2 linked regions of the Homo sapiens genome follow. The protein of the gene in region 1 interacts with the protein of each later gene in a biochemical or structural test. Each region holds a gene or a part of one and is shown on either strand. Other genes may lie near its edges. The genes, in order: PAK5 and DNPEP.

What was found.
Region 2: the proteins of PAK5 (region 1) and DNPEP form a complex in vitro, tested with the Homo sapiens proteins (one study listed by BioGRID).

The regions. Positions count from the first base shown.
Region 1 is NC_000020.11:9,560,138-9,576,045, reverse strand, and holds part of PAK5 (serine/threonine-protein kinase PAK 5), read left to right. Parts: intron 1-4,737; exon of another isoform or gene 4,738-5,167; intron 5,168-9,661; coding exon 9,662-10,153; intron 10,154-12,944; exon of another isoform or gene 12,945-13,021; coding exon 13,022-13,155; intron 13,156-15,908.
Region 2 is NC_000002.12:219,381,758-219,397,635, reverse strand, and holds the start of DNPEP (aspartyl aminopeptidase), read left to right. Parts: upstream 1-9,723; 5' UTR 9,724-9,841; coding exon 9,842-9,877; exon of another isoform or gene 9,878-10,060; intron 10,061-10,273; exon of another isoform or gene 10,274-10,358; intron 10,359-10,472; coding exon 10,473-10,566; intron 10,567-10,655; coding exon 10,656-10,744; intron 10,745-10,857; coding exon 10,858-10,971; intron 10,972-11,224; coding exon 11,225-11,350; intron 11,351-11,537; coding exon 11,538-11,668; intron 11,669-11,929; coding exon 11,930-12,005; intron 12,006-12,104; coding exon 12,105-12,212; intron 12,213-13,192; coding exon 13,193-13,270; intron 13,271-14,421; coding exon 14,422-14,505; intron 14,506-15,496; coding exon 15,497-15,657; intron 15,658-15,878.

The sequences.
Region 1 (15,908 bases):
GGTTACTGTGTTCCAAGCACTGTGCTAAGCATTTTGCAAACATGACTCAACTTAATCTTTGCAATTCCAGAAGAATTCAGGATCACCTCTGCTCTACAGTTGAGGAAGCTGAGACTCCAAATCTTTATGGACTTCCCCAAGTTTATAAAGGCAAATAACTGAGTCAGGATTCCAAACTAGGTCCCACTGACTCCAAAGTCTATGTGTTCCAGAATATTCTCATTTCCGTAGAAGAAAATCCAGGGGCAGAAAGGTGGACATGAAGTCTCCAGGCCCAGACACAAATCCTAGAGGTAGCCTCACCTTGCTGGTGAAGAATGGGTGGTGACTGACAGGTGGATTTGCTGTGCCCATGGAATGCTGTTTATTCTTCCTGTTCTTCCATCATGTAGGATGGAATCCTTGAGAAGTTCCTTAATGTCACCCAGAGTGTAAACCGTGGGTAAAAGCTGGAACTATGGGCTGTAAAGGAAGTGTTAGGTGCAGAAATCCCTAAGGTGCTCATATGCATTTATTTGACCTTAAGTGGTAGTCTTGTTTGATTTTTTAAAAGATAATCCAGATTTTCTCACCCATTACAGAAAAATGCAAGTTCTATAATCAGATTCCCTGGATTCAAGCGCTTAGTAGCTGTATGATCTTCTCTGTGCATCAGTTTCATCATCTCTAAAGTGTTTCAGTACCTACTTTGAACTGGGCATGGTGGCACACAACTGTAGCCCTAGCTACTGGGGAGGCCAAGACAATCCTTTGAGCCCAGGAGTTCAAGGTTGCAGTGAGTTATAATTACACTACTACACTCCAGCCTAGGCAACAGAGTGAGACCCTGTCTAAAAAAACAAAACAAAACAAAAAGGATGGGAAGAAAAGGATGGTGTGATTTCCCGGCACTTCCTTCTGGGGTCAACAGTTCAATGTGTTTTCACTGCTTAGCTATCACTTTGCTTTCCCTGGAAGGAAAAAGCACTTGAACCAGTGGGCCCAGTCTTCCCGCATCAATAATTTACTGATTCACTGTTCTTTGTGGTACTTGTCATGCCCAGATTCAACCATGGCTCCAACAACAGAACAGCAACTTCTTTTCTACTGAGGATCCCTGCAGAACTCGGTTCAGAGATCCATTCAGGGTTTAATGGGTTATGGAATGACAGTGCTAGTGAAAACTGATGGGCTGCACTAAAAATCTGAGGGGGAAAGAGAGAAGCACTTGATCACTTAATATAACAATGGATATATTTAGATTTGTTTTCTTTACCTACAGGGTCTTCATTAAGGCTCATAAAACATCCAAGGACTGACTGAGTGCACTATCTCTAACGTCTGTCCCTTCTGATGGAGACTTTAGGTGTCCTTTGCATATGAATGGACACTTCTTCCCATGAATGCTCTTGTGATTCAAAATAAATTGTATTTTGGTCATTATGAATGGGTTTTCCCATTACCAAATTAAAAACAAAATGAATTTAACCTGGCATTGTCCGTTCCTAGCTCTCTCAGAGGCCCTGACATATTTGAACAATATTCTGAGGCTGCAAACCAGTCCCCAAAGACGAAGAGTCCCTCCACATCACTGCAGGCGATGACGGATCGCAGGTCAGACCAATCTGCTCTGTCTCACTGCTCTTGAATAGAAGACACATTCTTTGAGTTTGAAGCAGCAACTGTGGGGGGTTAATTGGATATGCCAATTCAGAGGTGGAGGAAGAGCCTGGAATACCCGTATGCCTGACCCTGCACATCTCAGATTTATTCATTGCTTCATATAGCTAGGCTTTGCTAGTTTGTAGGGTCATGAGCCACTTGTCCAACTCTCAGTGTGCATTTGCAGGGCACAACCAGAGAGACAGACGAGTTATAGGGTTCAATGAGTCCCATTCCCCTAATTGCCAGTCTCTATCCTGTCCCTACAGAGAATGCAAGTTAATGATTCTCTCCAGAATTCTTACAAGCAGTCGTTTTCCCTTCCCAAAGCCAAGCCTGGTCCTGTTAAATTTTCCTTTGAGTCAAGTGAGGACAATTTAAGATGTCCTTTCCATGCTCAGATAATAGAGGTACTGTGATTCACTTTTATCTTGCATTTGATTTATGGAGAGTAAGCAGCACCCAGCCTGGCGTTTTCATTTTCGAGATGAGCAGTCTTTGTTTTATTGTGCTCTGAAAAGGTGTATTGGAGCATCACATTCAGGCACTGGAACCAGCTGCCGCCCACTCCCTGTAACTCGCCATCCTTCACGGAACATTCCGAGTCCTCATTCTGTGGGTACAGACCCACACTGTGGCTGTGTCCACACACCCCAGTCGAGCACGCTCCAGCCACGGCCCCCCTGCCCTCAGAACAGAAGGCCACAGTGCCAAATAGATGCTCCTGCAGTACTGTTTTTTCCTTCTCTTCTTTCTCTCACCCTCCCCTAACCAAGCTTTCTTCCCCCCAAGACTTGGCATAAAATGGTCAAATTATGTTCTACTGCAGAATTCAATTTCACAGTTCAGTTAGGTCCTTGATTACACTGCCAAATTCAGATTAATGTGCATTTAACTAACATGGATCAGGGGAATTCTGGCTGACAACCAGCTGTAATCGGAGCAATTGATAGCTGTGTGGAGTTTTATGCCCCGTCCACCCCAGCGTAGCTCTGGTGAAATTGATTGATTAAGTGAATTCATAGCTATAATTATTTATAATTTTGATACATCACAAGCCTGTGTCTGACCCTATCTTTAGAGATGTTGAGCTCATTGTAGAAAGGTAGTCCGGCTGAGTTGTTAACTGGGGATTATTTATTCCCTTATATAATATATTCTTTTTTGCTCTTTTTCTTTTTTGATCATGTTTGAATAGAGACATGACAAAGCACATTTTTTAAAGAATTAATTTATATGGTATACAAAAAAGTGTCAGGAAGCTAAAAAACAAGTGTATGTTATTAGCCATTTCAAAAAAAAAAAAGAGGAAATCACAATCATGACTGCTTGTTCATTTTGTCAATATTTCTAAAGATTCCTGTAGAGAGAATTCCTTCTTAAAATGTATCCAATTTTCAATGACAATTAATGACCTGGTAACCCTGCAGCTAAGCAGTTTAGCAGCCTGGGTGATAATTTGCAAGACAATTGACCTGGTCTTCTCTCATGACATCATGCCATATGGAAATCCCCCTGAAAACTTTGCAGACCATGGTCTCCTTTGTAAGGAGTTACTCGTTCACAAAATCACAGCACTGTTCTCTTTGGAGGGATGGGAAGAATGCCTTTGTTGTTTTTTCTCTTACATTGCAGTTTCCCACCCTTGCTCTGCACTCCGTGCCCTTGCTGTAAGGTCTGCAAGGGTAAACTATGTACATAAATCTTTTGGAAATGGTTTGGATCATGGGTGATGAGAGATATGCTGGATTTGCTTATTAAATATCATTCCTGTCACTAGTCCCATTCCACTGCATTGTGTTTTCACTAAATAATCAGATCCCAAATCCCTTTCACAATACCAAAGATAGGTCTGCTTTTATGAACTTCAAGCCTACTCATTTTTTTTCTAGAATGTATTTGTAAATCAGGTCATAGAAAAGATTGCACAGTTTAAGCTGGACTGCTTTGCACATCTTTCTCACATGCATGAACATGTGTGTGTAAAACAGTAGGAATGGACAAATTCATCATTTATGTTTTCTGCCTTCCAAATATAGGCTATCATGAGAAAGACAACTTAGAATGGAACACTTACATGACTATGAAAGTCCAAGAGCTATGTGAGGAGGTCTCATCGCAGAAGAAAGTTTGCACTTTCTTCCTTGAAAGAACTTACAGAAGAAAGCCTGAGTGATGTTGTAACAATGCAGAGTTCTGCTTTGACCAAAACAAAAAGGAAAATGATGAATGATGTACATAGATAATCAACTCGTTTTGCTGTGATGACTACTCTTTTTTTTAGCTCATTTCTCTAAGCCAAAACTGCTCAAAACAAACAAGCCAAAAAAAAAAAAAAAACCCTTAATTTGTCTTTCACCCCCTCTCCTAGACATTATCATCCATCATGTTCTGGTCCAATTCTTGCATTTTGCCCCAGGCTGCCCAAACATCTGGGCCCCCAGTGAAACACCCTGACCAGGCTTTATCTCTGTGGTTATCATCATTGCCCACTCTGCCCGCCCCTGTTAAGACCACATCCCCCCCCCCCATCATTCATGCCTATCTCTGTGAATTTTTCAAGGACCCAAGTACTGAAGCGACTCTGTCTGGATTTGAATCCCATTTCTCCCTTCTTTTAGCTTTGGGATCTTTGCATGACCTACTTAAACCCACTGTGCCTCAGTCTTCTTATCTATAAAATGGAGGAATTACAGAGCTTATTTAATTGTCCAGCTTGAGGTTTACGTGCAAGAATATACACAGTGTGCTTAGAACAGTCCCTGGCATGTAGAAAGCACTCAATAAGTATCAAACATCATTATTCTTATAAATCAATGAATGTTGGAAATGCCAAGGCAGGCAAGGGAGCCGGCCTGTGGGCCAGTGTGCTGGGCGCCCTCCCACTGGGAGTGAAGGACTGACCCCGGCAGAAGAACTAGGTTATGTCGTCCCCTTGGAAGTATGGAGCTATTTGCCCTGCATTGCTTGGGGGCAGTTTCGTCTCCTTGTGCCTCTATTTTATCAACCACAAAATGGGATTCAGTTGCCCCCTGCTTGATTCCCAGAATAAAAAGAACAAGACCTGTTGAAAGTGTGTGGGCTGGTGATACGCACCATCATGGAACCCCGCATGTGGGTTAAGATCCAACAGAAGGCAATGGTTCAGCACCTTGGTGGCCCCAAATGGGGTCACCCATGCATTTCTCCTTCACAGAGTCAGCTATTTGTCCTCTGAGGGAAGACTACATGTCCCCTCACTTGAAGTGAACAGTTCATTCTCTGATGAGTATGCCTTGAGTTTCATTCAAAACATTGTCTCTTGTGATACTAGTTGTTCCTCAACCATTGCTTAAGAGTCTGTACCTCTTACCAGCAGCCGTGAAAGACAACAGCACCTTTTTGTCTCATGGCCTATTTTGAAGATGGTTAGCTTTCAGCAAAGAGCTCTGCATTCCATCTTTGCCTGGAAATTGTCCCCTTGGTGCAGGCAGGCTTCTTCTTTATGTCATATGCCAGCTGTTAAGGGTGGATTCTGATAATGCTGCTGACAGGTGATAAGGAAGAAAAGTGGCCTAAATTAGTGCAAAGCGGTGTTTGTGATTCCTGCAGGATGCAGCTTTCCCATTTTTAATATATCTTCAGAGATCAGTTATACATGCTTGTGGGGAATGAATTCAATTTCGTTGAAAGTACAGGAGCCAGTCCTCCAAGGAAGACACAGGGTGATAATGGCAAGTGATGGCTCCCAGGACACACTTTCAGAAATAAAAGCCAAAACACTATTTCCCTTCACACCCTGGCCTTGCTGACTAGCCTAGACTTGACTAATCTGGAGCTTATTGAAGGAAGAATCCAGTTGTTTAACTTACACTGACACTTCTCTCTCCCCATTCCATCGTAGTTTAACTTACACTGACACTTCTCTCTCCCCATTCCATCATACACACACACTCACACACACACGTTTTCCTTGTGTAGCACAAATACAGAGGCTTTGAAAAGAATCAGCTTGGTTTTGAATATTTTAACTATACATTGTTCAATATATTAATGTTAACTACATCTTGTCTTATTGCTTTGAGTATTAATATATAGGAATATATATACCACAGGGGCATTGTATGTCTTCAATAAATGCTAGCTAGTTTGATAATATTGCAGTTACTATTTATTTTATTTTGCATTCTCATTACTGTGCTAAGCATTTTATATAATAATAACACCAAGTAGAACTTACTGGCCAGTCATTGTTTGAATACTTTGATATGTATTTGATCCTTTAGAGTTCAGTGACCAAAGGAAGTAAGTATTATTATTGTTCCATTTTACGGATAAGGAAACAGACTCACAGAGGCTGATTTGACTAAAATTATCAGAGTCAGAAGGAAACTAAGACTCAGAGAGGTTGACTTGACTAAAATTATCAGTCAGAATTCATTCCTATGCCCGTCAAAAGCATGTGTTCTCTCTGCAACCAGGGCAGGAGGGCAGCTTAGCAGCTACCCTGGTTCCTGCTGGTTGATGCCAAGGCTGTCTGAGTGGTGAATTCACCTAGTAAAGTGTAGTGTTTTTGAAGCTGGAAGGGCTGCATTGCTGAATGTTCAGCAGGCCAGGCACTGTCATTGTAGAACCAATGGGCAGTGTTGGGGGACTGAGAATGGTGCTATGGTAGCAATTTTAAAGAGCCCACTGTGTGCAGTTATTGCTCCATGATGTGATAGAATGACTACCTTCTTATGCATCGTGGTGGGGCAGGAGCTTGAAACACCTGCTTGCCTCTACCATGTCACCAGATCCAATGAGCAACATGCCCCATCCCACTTCTCAGTGGCATTTGACAGGATTCATTAGCCCTTCCTTCTTGAAATACTTTCCTCCCTTGGCTCCAGGACACCTTGCTTCCTTAGTTTCCTTTCTACAGCACTTGTCACTCCTTCTCTGCTCCCTTTTGCAAGATCCCTCTGCTCTTTCTGGTATCTAGACGTTGGGGTCCTCAGACCATCTCTTACACATTCAGTATCATGGCTTTTAATATGAACTAAGCACCGATGACTCTCAGATTCATGTCTTTAGCTTTAACTCTTCCCTGGACTTGGGGCATGCCTAAGTCTCCTAAGTGACACCTCCACATGGATGTCTAATCACTCTCCCAAACTTTACATGGCTAAAAGAACTCTTAATTTTCCACCATGTATTAGCTATCAATATTGCTGCATAACAAATTATCCCAAAACTTCATGGCTTAAAACAAACTGCCTCATGAAGCAAAAAATAGTGCTGTTCAACTAATTTCCCCTAAACTTTAAATAACAAACATTTACTATTTCACAGTTTCTGTAGGTCACAAATTGAGAGGGCTTAGCTGATTGATTGGTTCTGTCTTGGAATCTCTCATGAGGTTGCAGTCAAGGTTTCAAACAGGAACACAGTCATCTGAAGGATCAACTGGACCTGGAGGATCCACCTCCAGAATGGCTCACATGGCTGTTTGCCAGAAGGCCTCAATTTCTAGCTAGCTCTTAGCAGGAGTCCTCAGTTTCTTGCTGCATGGACCTCTCTATTTTATTATTATTATTATTTTTATTATTTCTGAGACAAGGTTTCACTCTGTCATCCAGGCTGGAGTGCAGTGGTGCAATCATAGCTCACTGCAGCCTTGAGCTCCTGGGCTCAAGTGATCCTTCAGCTTTAGCCTCCCAAAGCTCTGGCATTACAGGCATGAGCCACTGCACCCAACCCTTCCAAAGGATTCTTGAGTGTCCTCATGACATGGCAGCTGGTGAAAGCCAAAATAAATGATGTAAGAAAGCAAAGGAACTTGCCATCATCTCTGCCTTTTTCTTTGATCACACAGATTGATCCCAATACAGTGTAGAAGGGGACTACATAGGAATATGAATGTCAGGAGGCACAGGTCATTGAGAGCAATTTGGAAGCTGATTATCACACCCCACAAGCCCTGTTCCTGCCCCTGGATTCCTCATCTCATTAAATGGCCTGTTGCTTAGGCCAAAATCCTGATAGCCATCTTTGATTCCTGTCTTTCAAGATCTCACCCAATCCATCAGCAAATCCTGTCAGCTCCATCTTCAAATCCTGCCCTAGATTTCACCATTTCTCACCCCATCTACAATAACCACCCTAATCTCAGCCCACATTAACTGTGATAAGCTGCTGGCATCCCTGTTTCCACTCTTGCCACCAAAGTCTCTCCTCCAGCAGCCAGAGAGTCAGACTGTGTCATTCCTGTCTGCTTAGCAACCCCCAGTGCTTCCCACCTCACTCGGAGCAAAAGCCAACGTCTTTGCCAAGGTCTTCATGATCTGTCCCCCGGCAGCTTCTCGGCCCATCTTCCTTAGTGGACACACTCCACTATAGCTGAGCGTCTGCTCTTCCTCACAAACTAAGCCTGGATCTGCCTCAGAATCCTGCATGTGCCACTCCCACTGCCCAAACCACCCCTCCTAGGAAAGGGATCTTGCTTTTTCCCTCACTCAGCCAGGCTTCTGCTCCAACGGAACCCCCTCAGAGAGTCCTTCTGTGACTACCCTATCCAAGATGGCATCTCATTACTTTCAACCCCCTCACTCTGCTTTATTTTTCTTAATATTATTCATTACTACTGAAACACACACTGTATATTTACTGGTTTTCTTTATTATTATCTATTTCCTTCTCTGGAGCATAAACCCCAGGAGGGCAGAGATATCATTCATTTTGACTGTTGGTGGACCCTCCCCCTCACACCTAAAACAGTGCATAGCACATCATAGTTGCTCAAATATTAATTTTTGAAATAAATGAATGAATGTGCTGCATGGGAACAATCAATTCATCTAGAATAGTGCCATCCAATAGCCCTTTCTGCAATGAGGAAAATGTTTTATATGTGTACTGTGTGATGTGGTAACTACTGAGTTCTTAAAATGTGACTAGTGTGATTGAGAAACTGAATTTTTAATTTTTAATCTATTTTTGTTTATTTTAAATAGGCACGTGTAGCTTGTAGCTACTATATTAGAATAGATCTAGGTCCTTGGGGTGGATGGTAGGGGAGTGGGATAAGTTAATGCCATTCCATTTACACCCAGTAGAGTGATAGAGACTTTCTGGGGCACTGCATTAAGAAAGAGCCTCAAGTCCAATCAACAGATCTTTTCTGAGTACCTTCTATGTATCCAGCACTGTGTTGTCATCGAGATCTTCCAAAACAGAGTGCATTGATGGATTAGCACTTTCTGCCCTGGGCTAGGAGCATACCACATGACAAGATGTGGTATCTTTACCATCCTGGCCTCAGCAATTCCAGGAGTGGCCAGAGCTCCTTCCTGATTCTTTCCAGGAAGTGACTGCTGGACCTACATATTGTATCATATACCAGTAATCCCCTCACTGGCTTCCCCATTCTCCTCCAATAAATCCCCTCATCCCACTCTTCCAAGTCAGAGTGGATGTTCTTTGCTGGGATCTCTTTCGGGTCTAGCATCATTTTCATTTCACACATACCCCTGCAAAGTCTGATCACTCTCAATTATATTTGTACTTATTTGGTGAGAACATTGCACATGTTCACCCTGTGGTTCACACCACTTAGCACAGGGAGACGTATTTTCCCCTGTACCTACATCTGCTGTGTTATACCTGTGTTATACATATATGTCCATACCACCCTCTAGTATGTGAATTCAGAAGCATGGGAAAAGGCCTCCTACCCCTGAAATGTCTCCCAAAAATGCTAGCTGAAAACTAATGTCCTTTAATGAGGGATGGGGTTTTTCATTACTGAACAAGAAAATAGGGCTTAACAAGCAAGTACACCTTAGATATGACACACGTGAAGTAACCTCCTGCTGTGGTGCACGTGCACCACAGAAGGCCCTTCCCTAGGTGTGGCCGGTCCTGTTGGTGCCCCAGCCAGATCCTCTCATCTCCCACTGGTGATCCTCATTCTGCCAGCTGTCAGTCAGCTCACTCACCACTCGGCTGTGGCATTCAGATCCAGCATGTGAATATTCTCTATCCATGTCTGTCTTCCCAGGTGGATTACGATCGAGCACAGATGGTCCTCAGCCCTCCACTGTCAGGGTCTGACACCTACCCCAGGGGCCCTGCCAAACTACCTCAAAGTCAAAGCAAATCGGGCTATTCCTCAAGCAGTCACCAGTACCCGTCTGGGTACCACAAAGCCACCTTGTACCATCACCCCTCCCTGCAGAGCAGTTCGCAGTACATCTCCACGGCTTCCTACCTGAGCTCCCTCAGCCTCTCATCCAGCACCTACCCGCCGCCCAGCTGGGGCTCCTCCTCCGACCAGCAGCCCTCCAGGGTGTCCCATGAACAGTTTCGGGCGGCCCTGCAGCTGGTGGTCAGCCCAGGAGACCCCAGGGAATACTTGGCCAACTTTATCAAAATCGGGGAAGGCTCAACCGGCATCGTATGCATCGCCACCGAGAAACACACAGGGAAACAAGTTGCAGTGAAGAAAATGGACCTCCGGAAGCAACAGAGACGAGAACTGCTTTTCAATGAGGTAAAGAGTGTGTTTGGGTCATCCTTTCTCTCCTTTGTAACATTTATTTCCCATTTCAAAAGTTATACACATGTACATTTTAGGACATTAGAAAAGCACTGAAAATATAAAGACAAAAATAGCGTCCCCTGTAATATTTCCTTCTAGTCTTTTTTCTATGCACATATATGGCTGTTACATCTATAAAGTACTTCATGTGTATCAGCCACTGTACTAAGCATTAATCTAGCTTGATCCTCACAACAACTCTGTGAGATAGAAAGATGTTATCACCATTTTTACAAGGAAACCTGGACTCAGGTTAAGAGATCCGGCTCAGGGTCAAGCAGGTTGACTGTAGAGCTAGGATCTGAATCTCTGTCTAGCAGATTCTAACTCTTATGCTACACTGTATCTACATGAGTATGTATATATTTTACACTACTATGATATCATAATATACCCTCCATAAACAATTTTTAAAACAGTAGACCAGGGTCAGTTTACCAATGGACTATCACCCTTTAGGAACTTTAAAATATTTTTCCTAACTATAAAAATAATGAATTCTTCCTGTAGAATACATGGAAAGTAAAGAAAATGTCCCACAGATATCCCAGTCAAGGAATAGCCTACATTAATATTTCAGTGTTTCCTTTCTATATTTTTCTGTTTACAAATTTCTTTTGTTTGAGATAATTATATATGTAGTTTGGTAACTCTCTAAATTTCAATTAATATTAACATGAATACTAATAAAATTAATATCATAAAATATATTGACCTGTATTACTTATATTTATTAATGTAAAGTAGATTTAATGACCATTTTAATGGCCTTATAATCTTCTATCATATACATGTATCAAATTTATTAAACCAGTCACTGATTTAATAAATTTGAGGTAACTTTAGATGTATGTGGTTCTGTGACTTTCTAAATTTCACCTAATGTTAACATTAATACTAATAAAATTAATATTAAATAAAATATATCAGCATACATTACTTATTTTTATTAATGTAAAATAAAATATATTAACGTATTCTATTAGCTACATGTCAAAACACAATTTTAATGGCTTAATAATCTTTTATCGTATACATGTATCATATTTAAAACCAGTTTCTGATTTATACTGTTTCCAATTTGTCACTTTTATTATTTTGCAGTGAGTGTTGTTACACATAAGTCTTTGGCTTCATATCTGATAATTTATTAGATTCCTAGAAGTAGGATGAACAGATCAAATGATATGTACTTTTTTTAGATAAATGATATACAGTGTTAATTTCTAGAAAGTTTGTACCAATCTAGACCCTCACCAATAGTATTGTTTCACCTTCACTAGCGTCATTGAGACTGTCATGTTATCTCTGTTCATCTGCTAGATATGAATAAACCTTACTGTTTTCATTAGCACTTTTATTACTAGTGTAGCTAAATTGAATTTTATGTGGTTATAGGCCATTTTTATTTCTTCACTAAATCATATGTTCTGTACACAGTTTTCAATTAGGGTGCTAGCATTTGTTTTATTGATGTGTAGGAGCTATTGATATGTTAAGGAATTAACCCTTCTCTGTATATTTGTTGTACTTTAATGTTTACCTTCCACTTTCTCATTTACCTTTTAAACTTATCACTTAAGAGCTCTAAAATAGGTGGGGAAACATGAGTAATTATGTTAGAAAACACATAAAGTATTTTGGAGTAATATTCTTTTAGTAATTTTATGAGAGCATTGAGGGGAAAGATAAGTTTTTGTGGATGAGAGATCTAAGTCCTAAAATATCAAGTCAGGGTATCAGTGTTAGATGTTAGTCTCCAGGAAAGCATGTACAATCCACATCTTCTAACTCCCAGAACAATCTACGGCTGCTTGACCTCTTTGTCTTTCTATTGTAAGGACTCCCATTCTCTGAGAAGTAAGAAGGTGTTTGGTCCATAAACAGGCACTGTACAAATGCACTCAGCTGCAATTTTGAACTCTGTTTATCATGGAGGCTCATATGAAGCCCCCAGTGGCCTCCACACATCTCCAGCTCCCACGGGTGCTTATTTCTTACACACGCTCCAAATCTCACAGAGAGTTCCAGGTGACTGGGCTTCAGCATCTTTCCAGTCCACCATTCCTGGTTTCTGGAATTTATTTTCCAAACCACAATGCCAGAACACACAGAGCAATATGATGTAGATAAATAATTCTGTAGTTTATTATTTAACACTAGCTCTGAAAACTCGAGTGGAAACAGCCACAGGGCAGCAATTTCTGGAAGCTCTCTCCAGCAAGCAGGCTCCTTAGCCTTTTTAATTTCTATGCCATACTTATTTTTATCTTCAATATATATTCTTTCAATTCAGCCCAAATATCTCTGAAGTTCAACCCATACCTACTTCCAAGGAGAAGTTAAGTTGGTCTTGTGTGGCTCCAGTTCTAATAATAGATAGTTTACTTCATTCACTTGTGGGACTCATTCCCTCAATTACTACGAGTTGGTGACCCTTTGCTAGGATAACCAGCAGAGGACTGTGAACAGTGCATTCTAAAGGAGACCCTTAGAGATATCTGATCATATCCCCAAAGATGGTCAACCAAACTCCCTCTTGTGAATGCAAATCTTGCTTTGGTTCTACTTGTTTTCATTTTCTCTCTGTGTCTCTCCAATGTCAGAGTGACCTGCCATTTTCTCTCAAATTTGCTACCTTGATTCCTTTTATTTCTACTAGCTACCCTTGATGCTTTTTGTCTGTAATAGATTTTCTGAATAAACTTCCCCACAATCAGTACCTCTCAATCAGTTTACTTACAATTGTAGTTGTGGCCACAAGAGAACAAAAAGCAACTTCATCTTCACAAGTCAAAAGTATATTTCCCGTTTCCCCAGGTCGTGATCATGCGGGATTACCACCATGACAATGTGGTTGACATGTACAGCAGCTACCTTGTCGGCGATGAGCTCTGGGTGGTCATGGAGTTTCTAGAAGGTGGTGCCTTGACAGACATTGTGACTCACACCAGGTAGGCTTCTTTATTATCCAGAGAATTCGAGGTGCTTCTTATTCTTCTCCAGGATAAAGCCGCAGTGACTATGAACTCTTCATAAATTGCAGGCACTTTGGAGTCAGGGAATATGACTACCCTTTCCCCTACATTCCCCAGAGGGCCCATTATGCTCTCAGGCATGTATAGTTCATTCATTTGGTGAATGTTCTCCCTGCCCTCAGAAGGACATTAATACCCATTGATTTAAAATAAGCAACCTGCTAAGAATGAAGCTTCAGTGACAAATAATAGAATGTCCTGTCGCCTATATAGATTTCTAAAGCTGAATTTCATTCTCCTGAGTTACTCTACCATTGCTGCATGCTAAGACACCAAGGATACCAGGGGAAGGAAGGGACAGGGAGAGGATCACTTGAAGTTTTGTATCAAAATAATGAATCTGGGTGGCACAGAGAAATTCTGCAATTCTGTTTTAAAATATGCTTGCAAGTAACGATGGTTAATTACCAGCCTATTGCTTCAGCTATTTGCCTCCCTGATGTGCCAGTTCCAGCCATTTCATTAAGTATTTATTGAGCACCTTTTATGTGCCAGGCTGTTTTGTAAGTGGTAGAGATGCAGAAGATACAAATGAATGTGGCTCAGATATATCCCCTCAGGGACATCACTGATGAGAAATACATTATAATACCTGTGCAGAATTAAGAAGATATATATATGTAGCATAGAAGAATACCTAAATGTCTCTCTCAGAAAGAGTCAATAAATATTTCTATTTAATATAAGGTGACATCTGAGATGGATTTTGAGAGCGAATAGGAGTTCACTAAGAAGGCAAGTAGGAGGAAAAGGGCATTGAAGGCAGAGGAAAGAATATGTGCTAGGACAGTGCCTCTTCAATTTCAGTGTCCACATAAATCACTGTGGATCTTATCAAAATGCATATCCTGACTCAATAGAGAGGGTGTAAGATTCTGCATTTACGGCAAACTTTCAGGCAATGGCAATGCTGCTGGTTCATGGACCATACTTGGAGAAGCAAGGTTCTGTGGAATAGACATACAAAATAGCATGTTACATTTGGGAAACTTTAACTTTGGTTTTGATGGTAAATAAAATGCCAAAAAGTTAAGGAAGGATTGTCATGAGGAAGAGGTATTGAGTGTTAGCTGATGTTATTGAAATGGTACCTGAATCAAAAGTGGATCCAGGTACATAATTGGTGGAAAACAAGGTAACAAGAAAGTACTGGGAAACCCTGTGAAGTATAAAACATGCTGTTTTTTCTCCACTGAAATGAGATGTTACGTGGCTCTACAGTTCTCGGTCTGGAGTAGGCTATCTCAAAATAAAGCTTTGTGAGTGAAGACATTTATCACCAACAATTCAGCTGGCAGACTCTTGATGTTGTAGCAATAAGACATGCCCAACAAAAAAACACATAAGATCATCTTAATTGGTAGAAACAAATATACTGGAAAGATCTAAGCATAAGGCAAATGTGATATACATTTTTTGCTTTTCACATATAAAGCAAAAAATAAAAATATATTCAGGGGAGAAACCTTTTTGTTGCCTTCCAGAGCTTCATACAGCCACTCAGGTCTCCAGCTCTACCTTTGTCAAGGTTCCTTTCCATTCTTATTTTGTATCCATGGAAACCACTCAAGACAGTCTGTCCCTAAAATCCATTTTCTTTTCTAATTTTCTCATCCAGGATTGTCAACTGATTTCCCTTTTAAAGACCCAGTAACTCCAGAGGCAAAACAAAATTGTGTGTCAAGGAACACCATGAATACTTGGTATTCGAAATCTTAAACTCAGAATTCAGAGAGCTTCCTTTAATAGATATTGAATAACTGCTTTACTGAATGATTTATTGATCGGTTGATAAAACATCTAACCCCTTGCAACTCCAAGTGCTGTCTGAGGACCTGGGAGCTTGTTAGAAATGCAGAATCTCAGGTACTACCCCAGACCAACTAAATGAGAATCCATGCTGTACCCAAATACTCAGGTATTTCTTATACATACTGAAGTGTTAGCATTAACTTAACATCTTGTTACGTCAGATCCTTCTAATTTCCAGGAAACAGAGGGTTATAGAAGGGAAGGGAAAGTGCCAAGCACCATCAAGCTCTTCATATGTTAATCATGTAACCATCACATATTTCTATGAGGCAGATGCTGATGTACCTGTCTGCCAGGTGATGAAGCTACAATTCAAACAGGAAAAATATTATTGGCCAGGCATGGTGGCTTATGCCTGTAATCTCAATACTTTGGGAGACCAAGGCAGGAGGATCACGTGAGCACAGGAGTTCGAGACCGGCCTGGGCAACTTAGCGAGACCCTGTCTCTATTAAAAAAATTTAAAAATTAGCTGAGTGTGGTGGCATGTCCCTGTAGTCCTAGCTACTCGAGAGGCTAAGACAGGAGGATCACTTGAGCCCAGAAGTTCAAGGCTGCAGTGAGCTCTGATTGCGCCGTTACACTCCAGCCTGGGCAACAGAGCAAGACTCTATCTCAAAATTTTAAAAGGTATCCTTCTTAAGACCACACATTTAATAACTGATACAGCCAGGATTTGAATTTGAGGTTACTCTAGAACTGAAGGGTTTTTTATTCCATGCCAAGCTTTTTTCCTATAGGAAAGAAGTAGAAGAAGAAATGCACCAACGATTCTCCAGCTGGCCATGCTAATTTCAAAGACACTGGATTAGGAAGTATTTGTCACGTGTTCCAGTCAAATAGGATCTTTCTGTTAG
Region 2 (15,878 bases), on another chromosome or scaffold:
GAACTATATATAATCTCACATATCCAATTGTTTTTGCACAGTGTCCGTGTGGGCCTAATAGGAATCTCCAGTGTAATGTCTTAATCTGAACTCCTTGTTCCCCAAACCTATTCCACCCACATTCTTGATCATATGGAGGCTACTTGGAAGGCTGAAGCACGAGAATCACTTGAATCCAGGAGGCTGAAGTTGCAGTGAGCCAAGATCACGCCACTGTACTCCAGCCTGGGCAACAGAGCAAAACTCTGTCTCAAAAAATAAAACAAAACAAAACAAAAAACCAATTAGCTCTCTGGAAGAAAAAAAAAATGCCCTGATTTGTAGTGTTTGCCAGTCTCAGTGGTGTAAATACTTGCAGGCCTGTCTCAAGCTTCCTGTCTGATGTCTCTGAATGTGGAACAGGAAAGAGACGGGGGTGGGAGGGGAGGGGAGGGGGGCTGGCTCTGGCACAACACGGCAAATACGACCCACAGCTAATAAATGCAGGAGCCAGGATGTGAGCCCGGTGTGTGGATCCTGAGCCCACGCTCATAACCACTTTGTTATACTGTCACTAACTATACAAGAGCATTGACATTCAAGGGGGATACATCTTAAGACCTTTGTGAAGTGCCAGTTTTACAGTGTTCCATAAAACTTGCAAGGTTAGTAACCAGCACTTTCCTATACCTCTTTGTTTTCATCACTAACAGGAGCAGTTGGTTTTCCTTTGAGGGCCATTCTGAAAACCTTTTTATTTGGAAATAATTTTACCTTCCCAAGAGGTTGCAGAAATTGTACATGGAGGTCTGTGTGCCCTCCACTCAGTTTCCCCAGATGGTTACATCTTAGATAAGCACAGCACAGTATTACACTCAGGAAAGTGACACAGGTAAAATGTGTGTGCGTAGGGTTTGATGCTATTTTTTTCTAGGTTTGCCAGATTTAGCAAATGAAAATACAGGAAACTCAGTTAAATTTTGTTTTTAGTATAAGCATATCCCATGCAATATTTGGGACATACTTATACTGAAAAGATTATTCCTTATCTTTTTTTTTCTTTTTTTTTGAGATGGAGTCTTGCTCTGTTGCCCAGGCTAGAGTGTAGTGGTACGATCTCAGCTCACTTCAACCTCCACCTCCCAAGTTCATGCGATTCTCCTGCCTCAGCCTCCCTAGTAGCTGGGATTACAGGTGCCCGCTACCATGCCTGGCTAATTTTTGTATTTTTAGTAGAGATGGGGCTTCACCATGTTGGTAAGGCTGGTCTCGAACTCCTGACCTCAAGTGATCCGCCTGCCTTGGCCTCCCAAAGTGCTGGGATTAGAGGTGTAAGCCACCCACGCCCAGCCCTTGTTTATCTTAAATTCAAATTAAACTGGGCATTCTGTATTTCATTTGGCAACCCTAACTTTATCATGGTTAGAGTCATAACCACCATTATAATCAAGACATAGAACTATCCATCACCATCAAGATATTCCTGAGCTACTCCTTCATAGTCACACATCCCTCCCCAAATCCTCCCTAGCCCTGAGCAACCACTAATCTGTTCTCCATCTCTATAATTTTGTCATTTTTTTCACTCAGCATAAGGCACCTGAGATCCATCCACAGCGTTGCATTTAGCAACCACTCGTTCCTTTTTATCGCTGAGTATTATCCCATGAGGGCCCTTTTTCACAAAGAACAATTATTTTTCAAAATTTCTTTAATTCAGTAAGTGTTTATTGTATATCCACTACCTGCCAGGCACTGAGGATTGCAGCAGCAAAGTAAAATTGATTACATGTCACAGGCCAGCAGGTTACTTCCAGTTGACAGAGACTTCTTCCTGTGGATCCTAAGACAGGAGATGACACTGGCGCTAGGAGAGGAGGATTGGCCTCCCTAAGCACTTCCCTCTGGAGATGCTAGGGAAGGCTTTGTGAAGGAGCTTGGGAGGCAGGGTTTGCTGATGGATCTGACATGGGGTGCAAGAGAAAGAGATGCACCAAGGCTAACGCCAAGAGTTATGACCTGAAACTGGAAGGACAAAGTTGCCATTTACTGAATGTATGGCAGATGCACCTGACAGCAATAACTGAAGCACACCCTGAGAATGACCCTGAATGGCAGATATACTTGATGTGTGTTTGGAGTTCTGAGCTAAGAAATCCTGGAGTGGGCAACCTAGAGATCCTCATCTATGAGGAACCTCTGAGCCCCCTTCCCATCCTGTGGAACAAGGGCCATACAGGGGATCAAGGCGCTTTGTTTTGGGTTAAATGAAGGTTGCCAGGTAGAGGTTGTTAGGGAGCAGGTGTTGAGTGAAAATGCGTGCTTTCTGCAGGTGACAGTGGTTCTACTGTCCAGCTCGCCACCACTGGACCATCTTGTATGTAAGTTCTCCTCAATAGACCCCACGTCGGCCGGGCCCAGTGGCTCACGCCTGTGATCCCAGCACTTCGGGAGGCTGAGGAGGGCAGATTGCTTGAGGTCAGGAGTTCGAGACCAGCCTGGCCAACATAGTGAAACCCTGTCTCTACTAAAAATACAAAATTAGCTGGGCATGGTGGTGCATGTCTGTAATCCTCAGGAGGCTGAGGCAGGAGAATCACTTGAACACAGGAGGTGGAGGTTGCAGTGAACCGAGATCGCACCACTGCACTCCAGCCTGGGCAACAGAGTGAGACTCCCTCTCAAAAAAAAAAAAACCTTGTCTTGTTTGCTGGCTCTGGGTCTCTTCTTTGGCCTCTTGAACCTGGGGCCTTCCTTATTGGAGTGGACAGGGGTTCAGCACAACACTGAGATGGGAAGAATGTGGATGGAATAGGTTTGGGGAACAAGGAGTTCAGATTAAGACATATTACACTGGAGATTCCTATTAGGCACACATATGGAGACTGTGCAAAAACAATTGGATATATGAGAATATATATAGTTCAGAAGAGATATCTGGGCTAGGGATACATAAATTTGACAATTGTCAGGGTATGGATACTATTTAAAGTCATGAGATTGGACATTAGCAAGGGAGTGAGGGTAGAGAGATTTCTAAGCACTGAGCCCTGAGGCCTTCCATTTAAAGATGGGAGATGAGGCCAGGCACCGTGGCTCATGCCTGTAATCCCAGCAGTTTGGGAGCCCCAGGTAAGAGTATCGCTTGAGGTCAAAGTTGGAGGCCAGCCTGGCCAACAAAGTGAGACCTCATCTCTATTTTAAAAACATGAATATAATAAAATAATAACAACATTAAAGATGGGAGATGAGGAGGAGCCAGAAGAGACCCAAAGGAGTGGTGGTGAGGGTAGTAAGTGTCTGGAAGGCCAAGTGAAGAGAGTGTTCCCAGGAGAGCAAACGGCTATGTCAAATAGGACCCATGGGTCAACGACAATGGGGACTGAAAATCGACCATTGGGTTCAGCATTGTGGAGGTTGCTTTTGACCTTGACAAGAAAAGTTGCGGTGGAATGACAGCGGTAAAACCTCATTCTAGAGGATTTACAAGAGAATGGGAGGAGAGGAATCGGGAAAACATAAGACTAGATAGTTCTTTTTAAAAGAGATTTACATAAAGAGGAGAAGGAAAATGAGGCCACTGCTGGAGGGAGACTGGGGGTTAAGGGAGGATTATTTTTTCTTGGGAGAAATTATAGCACATGTATATGCTAATCAGCTTGACCCGCCAGAACTGTGGAGATTGATAATGCAGGAGAAAGGGAAGAAGAGTTGATATGGTGCCCTTACGTAAGCAAGAGGGGTGGAATCTTGTGCACAAGTGGAGAGGGTGGCCTTGGATAGGAGCACAGATGGTTCACCCACAGAAATGAGGACAGCAGAATATGGAGCTCAGATCCTGGTAGGAGCCTAGGCGTGGCAGCTTAAAACTTGCGGAAATTCTCTTTTGAAGGCTTCTATTTTCACAGTAAAATGGGAACCATGGTCCTCGGCTGAGAGTGGGGATGGAGGAAGACACTGGATGAAACTCTCCTCCAGGAAAGCAAAGAAGCAAATGGCCCAGGAGATGCAATAGGACCTCTGGGCAGTACAAAGAACACACTTAGGTTAGTGGTTGAGTTTAAAGCAAGCTTGTCCAGCTGGGTGTGGTGGCTCACACCTGTAATCCCAGCACTTTGGGAGGCCAAGGCAGATGGATCACTTGAGGTCAGGAGGTCGAGACCAGCCTGGCCAACATGGTGAAACCCTGTCTCTACTAAAAATACAGAAATTAGCCAGGCATGGTGGCTCATGCTTGTAATCACAGCTACTTGAGAGGCTGAGGCAGAAGAATCGCTTGAACCCAGGAGGCAGAGGTTGTGGTGAACTGAGATCATGCCACTGCACTCCAGCCTGGGCAACAGAGCAAGACTCTGTCTCAAAAAAACTAAAAAAAAAAGTAAGCTTGTCCAACCCACCACCTATGGACCACATGCAGCCCAGGACAGCTTTGAATGCAGCCCAACACATATTTGTAAACTTTCTTAAAACATTATGAGATTTTTTTGAAAGGTTTTTAGCTCATCAGTTATTGTTAGGGTTCGTGTATTTTATTTGTGGCCCAAGACTATTCTACTTCTTCCAATGTGGCCCAGGGAAGCCAAAAGACCGGACACCACTGGTTTAAAGTGAGACCAGGCAGCGCGGCTTGGATGTTTCTCCAGCCACACAGGTTGGAGCAGGGGAGGAGCTGGTTGCAGTCAGGGTTGGGGTTTTGCCAGGCAAGTCCGCAAATCTAGAGCAGGAACTTGAAGGTGTGTGCGAGGGAGTGAGCACAACAGTGGAATGTATGGCTCATCCTAGGTAGGAGAGTCATGAAGACAGGAGTGAGGAATAGGGAAAGGTAGGATCAATAGTTTGTAGTTCTAGGCTGGACGCGGTGGTTCACACGTGTAATCCCAGCACTTTGGGAGGCCAAGGTGGGTGGATCACCTGAGGTCAGGAGTTCAAGACCAGCCTGGCCAACATGGTGAAACCCTGTCTCTACTAAAAATACAAAAAATGAGCCAGGCATGGTGATGCGTGCTTGTAATCCCAGCTACTCAGGAGGCTGAGGCAGGAGAATCTCTGGAACCCAGGAAATGAAGGTTGCAGTAAGCCAAAATAGCGCCACTGCACTCCAGCCTGGACAACAGAGTGAGACTCCATCTCAAAAAAAAAAATTTAACTGGGTGTGGTAGAGGGCACCTATAATCCCAGCTACATGGGAGGCTGAGGCAGGAGAATCACTTGAACCCAGGAGGCGGAGATTGCAGTGAGCTGAGATGGTTGCCACTGCCCTCTAGCTTGGGCAACAGAGCGAGACTCCGTCTCAATAAAAAAAAAAAAAAAAGACATATGTATCTTATAAACTCACACTGAAGTGTATGTAACTGACTTCTATGTTCACGCAAAAGTATTTGCACTTTAATATGTGTTAAACCAAAAAGATGAATGAATAATGGTAGCATTGTAAACATCAGCCGAGATCTTCCAGGGAAGATTTTCTCAGAAGGCCAAGGGCAAGAACGATTCTCAGAAACTTTTTCTTTCTTGATCCCTAGTCATCCCTTGACTTTGCCACCTGAACTCCAAATCCATCACCATTCCCTTACCCAGAGGTGACCATTATCCTTCCAAACCTGTTTCTATCCATTTACATATGTATTTATATAACATCTAGAAATATAAATTTAGCTCATTGTGTGAGTTTTATCTAAAGGCCCTCACCTTACATTCTAGAAATTGCTTTTTTTTTTCACTCAACAGTATATTTGGAATTCTTTTCTGTAACAATTCCTAAAGACTGACCTTTTTTTTTTTTTTATGAACTGCTACACAGCACTTTAAAATACTGTGTCTCAAGCATTCAAATCATCTAGGAATCTTGTTAACATGCAGATGCTGATTCTATAACTCTAGGGTAAGCCCTGAGGTTCTGCATTTCTAAAAAGCTCCCAGATGTTATTGACATTGCTGGTCAACAGATCACACATTTAGTAGCAAAGATGTACAGTACGGGTGGAATAGTGTGCTGGGGCCAACTTGGACAAGCTCATGAGAACTGATTGTCAAATTTCCAGGAATTTGGTGAGCTTGTTGTTAAACACAGCAATCATTAAAAAAAACTAAATTATATACACTTACAATTAAATAAATTATATTACAGATAATGAAAACCAAAAATCCATCACCTTTCCAAACATTTTACTGCCTTCTTAAATCTATGCTGTTGATGTTATTTCTATCCATTGTGTCTGCATGGTGGAAATCTACATAATGGCATGCTTCCGCACAGCTCTTCCCAACTCCCTTCAGTGACATCATCTCGACAGCTTGAAATCGGCCACGGGGAACATTTACACCACAGAAATTTGGGTATAAAGGTCTGTGCAAACATACCCCCAAAGTTCAGGGAAGCTGAAAAGCCGACGAAAGAGGCTGACATATACAGTCTCTCAGAAAGAAACATTTCATAGGGACTTATGAATAGAGGCCATAGTTTCAGAGATGAAATGGTGGATTACCCTGCAAACCCAGGGCTTACATACCATAGGGAAACAATGTGTCAAACAATTGAAGTTGACCCCTCAGGCAAAGTCATGAATGCTATGTGAATCTGTCTAAGCGCAGGATTTATGGTAATAGTAGGTAAAGTAGAAAACTTAGAGTCATTCCTGGAACAGGTTGTTGAAAAGTCAACATGGCAGATTAGCTTCCCAGATGGAGTTGCTTTAGCCTCCAGAAAATGCTTGCATTACCCCAAGCCTTCTCCAACACTTGATATTACCCATCTTTTCCATTTTTGTTAATCTGCTCAATAAAAAGAAAAAGTATCTCATTTTTATTATTTATTAATTTTTTTTTTGAGTTGGAGTCTCGCACTTGTTGCCTGGGCTGGAGTGCAATGGCACGATCTCGGCTCACTGCAACCTCTGCCTCCCGGGTTCAAGCAGTTCTCCTGCCTCAGTCTCCTGAGTAGCTGGGATTACAAGTGCACACCACCATGTCCAGCTAATTTTTTGTATTTTTAGCCAGGCTAGTCTCAAACTCCTGACCTCGTGATCCACCCGCCTTTGCCTCCCAAAGTGCTGGGATTACAGGCATGAGCCACCACGCCCAACTGTTATCTCATTTTTAACTTGCATTTTCCTGTTTAAAGTGAGATTAGGTGTCTCATATGTTCATGACTAGAAATTTAACAATATTTCTTGCTCTTGTAAATATAGCCCTTTTACTTTTTTCTTTTTTACCCAAACCAAAAATGGTCAATAAGAACCTTTTTACTTTTATATTTTCTAGGTGATTATTGTACAAGAAAGTCAGTGTTTTTTAAATTAGGCTACCCTTCCTACCAGTTCTAATAATAGCTTGATCGTTTATTTTCTTGGGGATTCTAGATAATCATATAATCTATAAATAATGACCAATTTTACTTTTGCACATATAGAATTGTTAATTTTGTTTTGTGGTACTGGCTCTGACTACAGCTCCACATTGTCTAGCAGCAGTAATAGCTCATCAATGTCTCACTTCTGATTTGAATAGGAACACTTCTGTATTTCCCTCCCAAAATGCTGGGATGACAGGCGTGAGCCACCACTCCCGGCTCACTTTCTAAGTTATGCATTTTGGTGATGTTTGAATCTCTTACTCAAGCATGTACTCTTTTCTGTGATCAGAAAGAACATTAAAGGTGGTTCCTTATTCAGGTTGTCTCCTTCCCTTATACATTGTAGCCTTGTTTCGGCCCTTTCACTGTCCTCCTTGAATGTGTCCCCTCCCCAGGAGGTAGAGGACAAGAATGCTCTCTCCATGTCCTGCTCAGCATTGAGCTTTATACATAATTTTATTTATTTATTTATTGAGACAGAATCTCACTCTGTCGCCCAGGCTGGAGTGCAGTGGCACGATCTCAGCTCACTGCAACCTCCACCTCCCGGGTTCAAGCGATTCTCTTGCCTCAGCCTCCCAAGTAGCTGCTGGGATTACAGGCACGTGCCACTACACCCGGCTAATTTTTGTATTTTTTGTAGAGACGGGGTTTCACCATGTTGGTCAGACTGGTCACGAACTCCTGACCTCAAGTGATCTACCCGCCTCGGCCTCCCAAAGTGCTGGGATTACAGGCGTGAGCCACTGCGCCAGGCCCATAATGGTATTTCAACAAACGGTTAGGGAATGCCATGAATTTAAGCCAGCACCTAGTGGGTGAATTCTTGAAAACTCCCCTGCCATATCTACTAGTTTGAAGTGAGGGCTGCAGGACCTTTCCAGCCTCTCCCCATCCCACCCTGTCACTCCCCACCCCAGGTATATAAACGGCAGGTTGCTCCATAAACCTGTGATCTCTGGAATTTTGTTTGAACCCCTGGTAGCTGGGCCCTGTTTTGGATCTAGAGGCCACCAAGAGTCCTGATCAGTTCCTGCAGCTAGGAAGGTGCATGGGGTTTAAACGTGCTACTCACTACTCCTGACATGGGAATACTGGAACTGCCAATAATGTGGAATTTGTTTTTCTGTTGTTTTTAACAAATGGAAAGGGCACAGATATCAGAGTCAAATCCCAGATCCACCCAAACAGCTATGTGATCTTGGGCAAGTCAACTTCTGTGTCCCTTGTGGACCTCCCGTGTAACATAACACTTACCAAAGCGCATAGAAAAAGGTCCAGAAAAGATCTGAGAGAAGGCTGTAGGGTTGTTCCAGGCCTCTGCAATCAAACTGATGGAGTTCAAACCCCACCTGTGCCGTTTATTACCTCGACGGATCACTAGTCTCCGTATCTCAGCTTTCTCTGTTCATGCATAAACTGGGGACAGTAAGAGTACATAGTTGATGGGGCAGTTGTGAAGATTAAACGAGGTAACAGGCCAATCTTTATCATAAAGCTAAAGCTCACCGTGAGCGCCCCATGGACATTAGCCTTATTGCTTTTATTGTCACAAAGGTGGCTGTGGCGAGAGACAGCACTTTGTACCGTACCCGTCGGACCCGGTGAGCTGGAGGGGCGAGCTTTTTATTGGCCTCGAGGCCCGGGGCACGGGGAGGCGGGCCGTCCGCGGCTGTCCTAGCACCTCCGCGGCAGCAGAGGGCCCTGGCGGCGGCTGCGGGTCGCGCGGCGTGGGTGACGGGGGTGCAGGGCGGGGCCTAACGAGCAGCCCCCGCAGGGGCGGAGACGAGGGCGGGCCGGAGGCGGAGGCGCGGCCTGGAGAGGGATGGGGCGGAAGCGGGGCGGGCGGTGCAGCCTAGCGAGGGGCGGGGCGGACGAGGAAGCGTGACGAGCGGCGGGGCGGGTGGAGCAGCCTGGCGAGGAGCGGGGCGGGGTGGGCGGCACGGCCTGACAAGGGGCGGGGAGCGCAAGGAGGCCTGACGAAGGGCGGGGCGGAGCAAGGGCGGGGGCAGGGCGAGTAGTGGGGTACAGCGAGGGCCGGAGCGGATGGGGGAAACCTGGTGAGGGGCGGGACAAAGCGGGGAGGGCGGTGCAGCCTGGCGAGAGGCGGGGCGGACGAGGAAGCTTGACGAGGGGCGGGGCGGGCGGTGCAGCCCTGCGAGGGGCAGGGCGGGCGGTGCTTCCTGGCGAGGGGCGGGGCGGGGCGGGCGGTGCGGCCAAGCTAGGGGCGGGGCAAGGGCGGGGCAAGGCGGGTGGTGGTGCCCAGCGAGGGGCGGAGCGGACAGGGTAAGCCCGCCGAGGGGCGGGGCTGACCGAGGTGGGCGGGGCGGATGCCGAGGGGCGGGGAGAGGTGGGCGGGGAGGCCAAACATGGGGCGGGGCGGCGCGGCCGGGGAAGCGTGATGAAGGCCTACGAGTGCGGCGCGGCCTGAAGGGGCACGCGGGGGACCTGCAAAGCTAGTGAGGGGCGGGGCAGGCGGCGCGGTGGGGGCGGGCCGAGCCCGGAGGCCAGATGAGCGGACACAGCCCCACGCGCGGGGCCATGCAGGTAAGTGGCTCCCGACGGCCCCACTTGAATTTCGATCCCAGACCGGGTCCGGCGCCCTCCGGGGCCCAAGCTTAGCGCGGTGCTGCAGTGGGGCCGCCTGACCCAAAGCGAAACCGAAAGCCCCGCGGAGGGTGACCTGACGACTTTCCCGGGACTGGAAGGGGGAGTCCTGCGAGAGACTAGGTGGGTGCGAGAGAGGAGTCAGGGTGCTCCTTGGGGTACAGGGCTTTGGCTCCGGGCTGGGTACGCGCACGTGATGCAGGCCGCCTCAGAGTATGGGGCCCGCTTGGGATCCCGGAGTTTGGGAGCAGAACAGGATTTCCTAGCTGGGCAGGGACATGGGGGCGGGACTTAGGGAGTCGGGCTAAAGTTCGGATTAAGGGGCGGGCCTGGCTCATGATCCTGGGCCGGCGGGCTGAAGCTTTCAACGGAGTTTCAGCCCTGGGTTTGGGTCTCTCGGTGGGGACGGGCGGAAGCAGAGGTCTGTGCCTTAGAGTGGTCACTTCTGGGGGTGGGGATGGGAGAATCCTCGGAACCTGGGTGAAAGGTCAGGGGTCCCAGACCTTGTAAAAGTCTGAGCATCCCCCTCCCCTAGGTGGCCATGAACGGTAAGGCCCGCAAAGAGGCGGTGCAGACTGCGGCTAAGGAACTCCTCAAGTTCGTGAACCGGAGTCCCTCTCCTTTCCATGGTAAGCGGTGGCCAGGGCAAGGGAGGAGGGTGGAGGCTGATGCGCCCTTCACCAGCTTCCATCGCTGTGAGAGGGTGCTTTTCCCACAGCTGTGGCTGAATGCCGCAACCGCCTTCTCCAGGCTGGCTTCAGTGAACTCAAGGAGACTGAGAAATGGAATATTAAGCCCGAGAGCAAGGTACTGGGGGTGGGGTGGGGGTGGAAAGGCAGGTCCCTAGGCTGGTCTCCAAGCCCTGTGTGCCAGCTGAGTAATGCAACTCACACCCCTGTCTTTCCTCCCCTTCTCCTCAGTACTTCATGACCAGGAACTCCTCCACCATCATAGCTTTTGCTGTAGGGGGCCAGTACGTTCCTGGCAATGGCTTCAGCCTCATCGGGGCCCACACGGACAGCCCCTGCCTCCGGGTAAGGAACTCGGACGGTGTTGGGGTGGGAGGAGATGTCAGAGGGAGTACAGGGCAAAAGAGAACTAGGAGGTACAAACTGGGGCCTCTATCCCCTGGAGTAAGGGAGAAGGTAAACTTGTTGGCCCCTTCCTTCACACCTTGAGCCTTTCATGTGACACTAATATTCGCTGTCTGTTACTTATGAGTAGCCAAAGTCTCATCTCCACATATCGTCATGAAGCCTTCTCTGACTTCTCCATCTTTACACTCAGGTGAAACGTCGGTCTCGCCGCAGCCAGGTGGGCTTCCAGCAAGTCGGTGTGGAGACCTATGGTGGTGGGATCTGGAGCACCTGGTTTGACCGTGACCTGACTCTGGCTGGACGCGTCATTGTCAAGGTGGGAACCGAGGTTGGGGATGGCGGAGCCTCCTCAGAAGACTGACTGCCACACTCCTCAGGGTACCCGTGGGGAAGAGGGGTGGGGGCAGTCTGGTCAGAGGACCACCCTGCTTAGTCTGAGTGAAGTAAAGACTGACCACTGGGGTAGGAGGCACCCTGGGCTGACCTGGCCTGGCTGGCTGCAGTGCCCTACCTCAGGTCGGCTGGAGCAGCAGCTGGTGCACGTGGAGCGGCCCATTCTTCGCATCCCACACCTGGCCATCCATCTGCAGCGAAATATCAACGAGAACTTTGGGCCCAACACAGAGATGCATCTGTGAGACTGGGGCAGGGCTGCGGTGGCTGGGAGGGATGGAGAATGGTACCAGGTGATTATTACCTAATGGTAGCCATTAGGTCACATTTTACTCTTGGGACCCAGTTAATTTCTAAGGGTCCTCACAGCCTTGTGATTTGGGGAGTGGGCTGGGAATTGAAGGGCAGAGGCAGTTGCCCATCAGGAGGCACCTGAACTTATGGATGCCGCACTCAGCTGTGCCCTCCTCGCAATCCCCCCACAACCCACGTCTCCCCACAGAGTCCCCATTCTTGCCACAGCCATCCAGGAGGAGCTGGAGAAGGGGACTCCTGAGCCAGGGCCTCTCAATGCTGTGGTAAGAGAGTCTCCTGATCATGGGGAGGGCGGCAGAGTCCCCTGAGAAGTGGGGAGGAGAGGAGGAATGGACTCTTCCCAGCATCTTTCTGCTCTTCAGGATGAGCGGCACCATTCGGTCCTCATGTCCCTGCTCTGTGCCCATCTGGGGCTGAGCCCCAAGGACATAGTGGAGATGGAGCTCTGCCTTGCAGACACCCAGCCTGCGGTGAGGACTGGCTGTAGGAACCTGTGGGTGAAGGGCCTCCAGGATCCTGGCCACCCCTAGCCCGTCCTGCTGAAGCACCCATCACCTCCACCAAGCCCTCAGTAACTCTCATCCCCGTTTTTCCCAGTAGACACATCCCCCACTGCTTCTAGGGCGGTGGTTCTCAAAAAGACAAGTTCCCTACCCCAGACCTGCCCACTAGGACTATCTGGGAATTGGCCCTTTTTACAGATTCCCAAAGAGTTTCTTCTACAGGTGGGCCCTGTCTGCTTTGACCCACACTGACACTGAACTGCTTAGGGAAAGAGGCCTGGATGTGGCCATCTGTTCTCTGTCTCCCGGTTGCTGATGGTCAGAGATTGCTAAATCTTTGGATGCTGTGTCCTGCTTGAACACGTACTAAGTTTCTGTTTTTTGGCTGGTTTCCTCTGTTTACTTCTTTGGCCTTTTTGATGACAATTCAGCCCTTCCTTTTCTTGACCCACAGGAAGAGGTCAAGAGCTATTGGCCTCCACCCTTTTGTTCCTCAGCACCAACCCAGCCCCCTTCTCCAATCTCTGCTTGGTCCTGCCTAGCAAGGAATCCCAGCACTTTGGGAGGCTGAGGCGGGGGGAATCACATGAGGTCAGGAGTTCGAGACTAGCCTGACCACCATGGTGAAACCCTGTCTCTAATAAAAATACAAAAATTAGCTGGGCCTGGTGGTGCATGCCTGTAATCCCAGCTACTCAGGAGGCTGAGGCACGAGAATCCTTTGAACCCGGGAGGCGGAAGTTGCAGTGAGCCGAGATCGAGCCATTGCACTTCAGACTGGGCGACAAGAGCGAACCTTCATCTCAAAAAAAAGAAAAAACAAAATAGTGCCCTAAGCCAGGGGTCAGGGAGAGGTTGCGCAAGAAACCAAGGAGACCCTTGGGAGCAAAAGAAAGGTGAGTGGGGGTGGAGGGTTGAAGGTCGGGCTGACTGTCTTACCTCTCTAGGTCTTGGGTGGTGCCTATGATGAGTTCATCTTTGCTCCTCGGCTGGACAATCTGCACAGCTGCTTCTGTGCCCTGCAGGTGAGGAGCCGGGGCGCCCCAGGCAGCACATAACCACCAGCAGAGGTGGTATGTTTGGGGTCGGGGGAGCTGCCTAAAGCCCCAGCAGGTTGTGAGAGAGGGCCATTGTCTACCCGCTCAGTCTGCTGGTGCTGGATGGACCAGGAGGGGGCCCTAAATGTTGCAGCCTCAGCATCGCCACCTTTGGTCTCTGCCCTTGCACTATCAGGGTGTTGAGGCAAGAAGAAGGAGGAGAAGTTGTTTCAGGCACCATGGTCTCTTGTCCTAGCCTTGCTCCTGCTGCTTTTCCTGAAGTTAACAACCTCTGCCTCAGGGAAAGGCTTTATCATCCACAAGGCAGTATCATCCACCTCCTTCTGCTTCCTACGCCACTCCCCAGGCTTAAGACCCCAGCCTTCTCCCTGTTTCTTGGGATCTCAGTCAGGTAGCCTCTCTTCCTAGTCACCTTGATATTCCCCACCTTCTCTCCACCCTAGTCAGTTCCCTTTCTTTCTCTCCTCTTGCCCTTGATCTCCCTCTGCCTTTTTCTGCCTTTCCTTCCCTGTAATCCTGTGGCTGGAGATAGGCTTTGGGCTGTAATTGAGACCAGAGCTGGACCTGGGACCTGCATCTACTTCTGCAGGCAACCAGCCAGTCATGTCACCTTGATGGAGTCTGTCACCTCTTTGAACCTCAGTCTTTTCCCTGAGGCCAATCAGTTTATGTGATGTGTGTAGCCTTTTGGCTTTCCAGGACTCTCAGCTCTTCCTCTCTGTCCTCCACATCTTCTACTGCCTTTTGCATGGGAAGGTAGAGAACAACACCCAAAGGATGGTGTCTCCTGTCCCAGTTGAAAAGGTTTCTACCTAGCTATTGATCTGGCCAAAAAAAAAAAGAAAGAAAGAAAAAAAGAGAAAAAAAAGGTCCTCACCACACCTTAAAGGTTTCTACCTATGTAGCTATTTATTTGGCAAGAAAAAAAAGGTCCCCACCACACCCTCTGCCAGGCAGTGCCCTAATTGATAAAAGTCATGGCCATGGAAGGCAGACAGGGGAATGTGCACACCCAAGGTGCTGGTGGATGGGGGAGCGTGCACACCCAAGGTGCTGGTGGGCTGAGTTCCAGCAGAAGCAGGTTGGAGATGATGCTCTCATTTCCTTCCCTGAACCAGGCCTTGATAGATTCCTGTGCAGGCCCTGGCTCCCTGGCCACAGAGCCTCACGTGCGCATGGTCACACTCTATGACAACGAAGAGGTACGTGGAGGGTTCTGGGGAGGGTCACCTCTGCGGAGTCTTCCACAGCCAACTTGTTGTGCCAGGCATCCACCGTGAGCCAGGGCTCTTCTGGGGGCCCCAAGACAGGGGAGATGCTGCCTGTGCCTCCTTAGCACTTGGTGTCTCCTCTGACTCAACATAGATCTGCTTATTCGAGGGTGACCGTCTCTCCTGTATCTCTCTTTGTGCCACATGGTGAGCTTCTTCCTTTAGGACAGGGACTCTACCCAGCCCATCCTCGTAGCCCCAGGGCTCAGCACAGAGTAGGTCCTCATGATGCCTGCGTGTGTGAGGCTGCAGTCTCAGCTGCATAACAGAGCTTGAACAGCTAGTGCTCTCTCATGTAACAACCCAGGTCAGAGTTAGCAGTTTAGGAGGGGTCCCTGCCGTCCTGAACACATGACTTCCATTTCAGGATTCAGGGTGGCCGTTCCAGCTCTGGCCATCATGTCTACACTGAGTTAGTAGGAAGGGAAGAGAGGGCAAAGGGGCAGTAGACACCCCCTGGCTTTAAGGGCATGATCCAGAAGTGACATTCATCACTGCTTACATTCCACAGAACTTAGCTGCAGGGGAGCCTGGAAATGTCATCTCTAGCTGGGTAGTTAAGTGCTTAGCTACAACTTGGGTGTTCTAAAAGATATCATGGACAGTTAGCAGTCTCTGTCATACACATAAAAGAAAATTGACCAGTGTGGTGGGGCACCTGTGCTGAGCCCCAGATGTGAGGGTCACGAGAGGAGGAAGGGGAGCAGTGCAGGAAACCCACCAGTACTGTTAAGAATGTGAGTTAGTTTGGTCTCAGCCCACTGTCTGGTGTTCAGTGACGACCCCAGGTTAGGGGTGTTGCTAAGAACACCCAGTGACTCAGTGGGGTTTTGGGCCAGTTGGGCAATGGGCCCCTCTCACTGGCTTCCAAGATCAGGCCCCTAAGCCCAGATTCCCAGAGTCAGGACTCTACTGTCGCCAGGTGGGGTCTGAGAGTGCACAGGGAGCACAGTCACTGCTGACAGAGCTGGTGCTGCGGCGGATCTCAGCCTCGTGCCAGCACCCGACAGCCTTCGAGGAAGCCATACCCAAGTCCTTCATGATCAGCGCAGACATGGCCCATGCTGTGCATCCCAACTACCTGTGAGTCTCTAGTGCCAGTCACACAGTCTTCACATAGCTGGAGACCCAAGCATAACCTGCCTTGAGGCTCTGCCTTGGCCCCAGCCTCTTCCTTTCTCCCTTCTTCATTCTGCCGGGAGGTTCACGGGCACTTCCTTTTCACTACTGCGAGACCAACTTGGTCAAAGTCATGCAATGCCTAACCCAGGTGTGTGGAATACACCTTTGTCTACAAACTTGTT